Linked DNA regions of Homo sapiens: region 1 is linked to region 2. The links come from fine-mapping of genetic effects on gene expression. Tissue or cell type: minor salivary gland. Region 2 holds a variant in brackets; the other region holds the start of a gene. All regions are shown on one strand. Distances are from middle to middle.

Region 1 (2,763 bases), 960 kb before region 2:
GATTATTCATCACTGTCTCTATGTCTTTACAAGTGCTGTCTTTTTAATTATTACTATACGTCACTGTGACATCAATGGGGCTTTCACAGAAAACAACCACCTGGAACGCAACGCCCGCGAATCAAAACTGTTGGTCCTGTTCCTGTTCCCCTCTAGTCCAATCTCTGCCTTGGTACAACTGTTCCCATGCTGTTTGGCCCACAGCTGCTGCTGAAGCCCGACCAGCCTGCCCATGCCAGCCCCTGCCAAGGACTCCCAGGCCCCCTTGCACCCAGCGACTGGAAAGGTAATGCCTAACGGCCCAACATCTTTAGAGCTGTAATCTGTCACCTCGCAGAGGAGTGCTGATGGTGCCCAGACAGACTGCTCAGTTATGCCTCTGGAGTGGGAGGTGCAGGAGGTCACCATGGGCTTTGTGCGGAACCAGGAGAAGCAGCCCTGGCTGTGAGATCAGGCCTGGCGAGGACAGCTCCTGCAGTGCCAGCTCTGCACCACCTCCAAGTGCTGCTGCCTCTGGCATGGGAGGTGTTATCATGGACACCATAAATGTGGGACCTTCAGGACTGGTGACAATTTTGATGGGCTGCACTAAAAAATCTGTAAAGGTGGTTAAGATTTAGCATGACTGACTGCCTAAATGCTTCCTTTCATGTGTCTATAAAAGTGATATTATCAAAGCGGAGCTCTGGGACGATTAATCTGGTTGCAGTTCTCAAGGAGTCCAGGCAATATTACTGCCAGGCCTGGAGGTGTGACCGGGGGGTGTGGGTCAGTGTGGCCATGGCCCTGGCAGGGGCAGCGGGGAAGGAGGGTGAGCTAAAGACGCTGGGTTTCATTTTGAATATGTTGAGTTGGAGGAAGAGGTCAGCCTGGAACTTAGGAGCGATGGAAGAGCCAGCATTCTTGCCTTAGCTTGGGGGTGAGGTTCCCCTTGCTCACTGCAGTTTCTCAAGGCCCGAGGCTTTGCGCTGTGGAAAGAAGTCTGAAATTTCAGGGACAGGGACAAGTGTTGCATGGGAACCTCCATGGGAAAGACAAGGTGGTAAGGAGAGGTCTTTGGGGCTGCCGCCTCCCGACCCCCACTGAAGACAGAAAGGAAAAGGGGCCAGAGGGAGATTTGTCTGGGGAGTAACGGGCAAACTGAGAATGCCATCCGCTGCAAGCTACAGCCACCCTGGGCTCTTCACACGTAGACAGAGCCGCCCCCTCCCATCAAGCGTTGCGGGCCAGCACTGCAGGACCCTGGCCTACAAAGGCAATGGGCCTGTGGCTGGCGTCACCCTCCCTCTGGGCAGCCGTGCAGGCACCCACAGGCCCTTGTGACTTTGGTCTTTTGAGAACTATGACAGTTCTGCCTGTAAGGTATGTTTTTTCTCTGTTTCTTTCTCAGCCACCATCACCAAGCTACTTACCACTTAGAAAGGGGAGTAAAAGTCAGGCCTGGAAGCAAACCCCGAGGAAGGCTGGGCTCAGCCTGTTGTGGGCATGGGAGGGCCTCTCTGCCTGAAAGCCGTGAGAGGTGAAGTCCAAGGATGGTCACTGAGGCCTCAAAGGTCTCCTCACTGTGCCACTGAGTCAGATCTTGAGTTCATCCAGGCTTGTGGGGACCCAGAGGACAGAAGATCATGGCTGTTGCCACCCATCTAGAAAATTGAGCCTCTTTCCACGTGTCCTTGGCCTGTGAGTACAAGCTGTCTGATCTGTTGATTGGAGGCTTGAGACAGAACACAGACACAATCCCATCAGGAATTTTCCAGAAGCCTCTGAGATGCCCCCTCCACCCACAATGCCCGAAATAGACAGCTCCCTCAGCGAGCAGACCTCTGGGGTCACAGACCATTTATAAAGGAGCGTGGTGCTCACTAATGCGGCTTTGGAGCTACAGCAAAGCGTAGCAAAAGCCTTGGGAAAAGTTCAGAGTGAGATTAGATCGAGGCTTTCTTGTCTGGGCAAGGCGAGGAGGCTGCCGTCACCTGGCTGGCGGGGAGACCTTAACCCCATGAACTTCAGAGTCTGGCCCCTTGGCCCAGTGCACCCTGGGAAATCCCCTGACTGCTGCACTGGGGAGTGACTGTGGTGAGGGACGTGTCCTCCCCCAGGGCCTCTGCCCTCCATTTGCCTCACAACCCAGGGCCCAGCACAGTCGGGATCACCAAGGTTAGAGCTGTTTCCTCCTCTCAGAACCACAGAGGGGGCCCTGAAAGTGCAAGATTGGAATGCCACTCCAAATGCCACGTGGCTTCCCTGGGACCCACTAACTGGGCAGCAGGGACCTCAGTGCTCTGGGAGGAGTTGGTGGTCCTGACGCTATGCACCCCTTTGGGCAGAATGACCCCCAGGGGACAGAGGCAGCGAGGGGCATCACTCAGATTACCTGGTGGACCCTCACACACCACTCTCATTAAATAGGTAAGAGAATAAAAGCTCAGAAAGGTTCGGTGAGCTGTCAAGACATATGGGGCAAGCCCGTGTTCTAGCCCAGATCTGTGTGAGGTTGAAGCCTTTGAAGGAAGGGCATGGCCCATGAATAAAGGATGTAGCCAAAGGGATCCAGAAGAGGTAGGCTTCAGAATTCCACCCACTCATGGACAGCCAGGTCCCAGTGAGGGCCAAGAAAGACCAGCTCCCTACACCATGAGCCTGGCTGAGGAGCCAGCCTGGAACCCTGGGAAGGAAGGGATCTGTGCTCCATTTGGGCACGCAGAATCATGCCTGATCCCAGACAGACTTTATGTCATCAGCTTTTCAGCTTTACTCTCCAGG
Region 2 (2,763 bases):
CCACTCACCCCTCACTGCCATGCCCCGGCCACCCTCCCTTCTGGTTGTGGCCACTGCCTACCCTCCCTCCCACTCAGGTGTAAGGCAGCACCCAGATCCTCCAGGGGCTTTTCACAGACATTGTTGATATTTTTGCTGTTGTAAATTTGTAAAACCCATGCTTTCCCGTATGAAACCGGTGAACCAGATATGCTAACAAGGAACACCTCGCTAGCCACCCTTAACTCCATGTTGTCTGCTGCCTCAAATGCAGGACGTCTGATTTCAAACTCCCATTTCCTCTCAGATGTTCTCTTCCCATGTCACTGATGACACCGTTGGCATCATTGTCCTCCCAAATATCTGTGACTCCTCTCACCACCATTGATCTATATTGATGAGTTGTGTGGAGTTGAAAACCCAGCTTCAGGGTTCCCTGAATTTTCAGTTACTGTGCTTTTCTGACTTCCTTGCTTCCACTTCCAAGGCTGTGCCTTAGTGACAGAGCTATCTGCTTTACTCTGATTCCGATTCCTCTAAGTGCCCAGGTTTCTGCTTTATGGAGACTGCACCACTTGGAATTTCTTTAGTACAGACTCCTTGTCATGACACTCGAAGCCCATTAGGTTTCTGACCTCAGGTTTCCTCTCTCATCTCCTAGAAATCAGACCTTTAGGTCGGTCCATTTTACTTGCCATCCCTGGAATAGAAGGGCCTCAGTGTCCCATCCCTCCTTCCTGTACTCCTCCATCCCGTTGAATAGTCAACACCTTACATTAGTTTTGTTTAAAGGTTATGAACACTGTCCTGCACATTATTTCATTTAACTTTCCCCCTTTTTTTCTGTCTCATCTCACCCTGTGTAAATTTAAACTGTTTCTCGAGGCTTAACTCAGACAGACCTCTGATATAGCACCTAGTGTAGTCATAGCCTATTTTTCATAGTGGAATAAAACCTATCAATAAACAATGGATTTCACCACTGATTTAAGATACATGATCTTTTGTGGACCTCTGCTACAAAATAATTCCCATGGATGGCCTGAATACATTTTATTTTCTCTATCTAAAATTGTAGCCACAGTTACATACATACATTTATTTATTTATTTATTTATTTATTTATTTATTTTTTTAACTGGGGAGAAGAATTATGGTACAATGGCAGAGACTTGGGCTCTAATACTGTGTCTGCCCCTGGGAAGCTGTGTGGCCATTGATCAGTAATTTCCCTTTTCTGGGCTTGACTCTTCTCTCCTGTAAAATGAGGTGATTAGATTCTTATTATTTAAGGGTCTTTTAAGCTCTAATGTTATATTTGATTGTAAACTCTTTTGGGACAGAGGCAGCCTCGTGTACTTTTGTATTTATAAGCTGTTCAATGAATGTCTCAAATTGAATTAGCTTCATGATGAAATCCTGGTCCCAAATTTGTGTTACAACTTCACAGTCATATATGGTTAATCTCGATAAAATTATTTAGCATTGGTGAGCTATTCATCTAAGTAATCTCTTCAGTTATCTTTGCCACCTATGTCTACA[T/C]AGGCCTGGCCAGAGCCCCCAAGTGCCTGGGCCCCACTCAGTGTGAACAAAAGCCTTTGCATTCTTGGTGCCATGGCATGTAATTAAGTGGAAAATAATTCCAGCATGACACAGAAGTGAGACTTCATACACAAAGCAAGTAATTTAGGTCCAGATTATTCAGTCATCCCATTCAGTATTGTATCAACTACAGGCAAAGCTCTATGGTAGATGCCATTGGGCTTAAAAATACAAATGTTGCATGATCCTCTGTAAGCAGTTTATCTCCAACTTAGGAAAGTCAGATATGGATGGCACTGGAATAGATGCATAATAATACAAGACAGTTAGCTGGCACAACAAGGTTTCAGGGGAAGGAGATAGTGTTTTACAGAAAAGGGGTCAGAAAGAGTTTCATGCATGATAGGAGGTTTAATCCAGACCTGGTAGAGAATGGATAGGATTTTACAGTCAGAACAAGAGCCTGAGTGATGCTGCCTGAGGGCATAGTTCAAGTCTCAAAGAGGGAGCAGATCATAAACCAGACACTGTGGCTCTTAAGTCACGTGGCGAGCAAGTGGAAGGCAGAAGGCCCTGGACACTGGTAAGGATGGGACGAGCACACACTCACTGAACTCAGAAAAAGCAGAAGGCAGTGGGATGCCGAGGTGCAGAGCAAGGCCAAAGCCTGGTTCTACCACTCCAGGTTACATGAACAAGGACAAGGCAGGCAACCCTCCGGACCACAGTTTCCTCATCTGTCAAATAAATACAGTGATAATAGCACCTCATGAGATGTGAGAGATTCAACAGAGCCAGTTCAGGGCAAGAGATCACCAGTGAATGGATGAGCAAGCATGGGTTAGCTGTAGATGTAGGAGATCAGGACTGAGACCAAGCCATCCGATCAAGGGAAGGGAAGGGGTGGATGTGCTGGGATGCCTGCTCTAAGAAGGAAAAAGTGGGGAGCCCAGAGCACTGTGTGTCTTGGATTGGGGTCCACAGAATGAGTGTGCAGAAATTGGTTAAGTTAGGCACTGCCCCTTTTAGAAACGTTCCCCTTTTTCTTGATTTTGAGGTGACAAGCCTCCCGGGCTGGCTCCTTGGGTGGTGCTCAGAAAGCAGGTGGTATTAGCAAGGCAAGCTTAGAGATCAGTGCTCTTCGAAGGCCAGGCCAGGCCTTAGCATCGTGGGTGGAGAGGCCGGTGGTGGCTTTTCTCAAGAATGTGCACAATGGGGGTGGATTCCAAAGATATAATTAAG

Evidence for each region. PIP is the estimated chance that this variant, and not a neighbour inherited with it, causes the effect.
Region 1: it holds the start of B3GAT1-DT, and the variant in region 2 is fine-mapped to the expression of B3GAT1-DT in minor salivary gland (GTEx, PIP 0.94).

Annotation. Positions count from the first base shown.
Region 1 is chr11:134,435,434-134,438,196 of GRCh38, reverse strand. B3GAT1-DT (B3GAT1 divergent transcript) reads right to left here and starts at 1,715. Exons shown (of 6, transcript NR_033852.1): 1 at 1,413-1,715.
Region 2 is chr11:133,479,793-133,482,555 of GRCh38, reverse strand. The region is part of intron 1 of OPCML (opioid binding protein/cell adhesion molecule like); the gene reads left to right. Among named protein-coding and RNA genes, the nearest start is that of OPCML, 51 kb to the left of the region's middle. The variant T/C (reference allele first, on the strand shown) is at 1,522.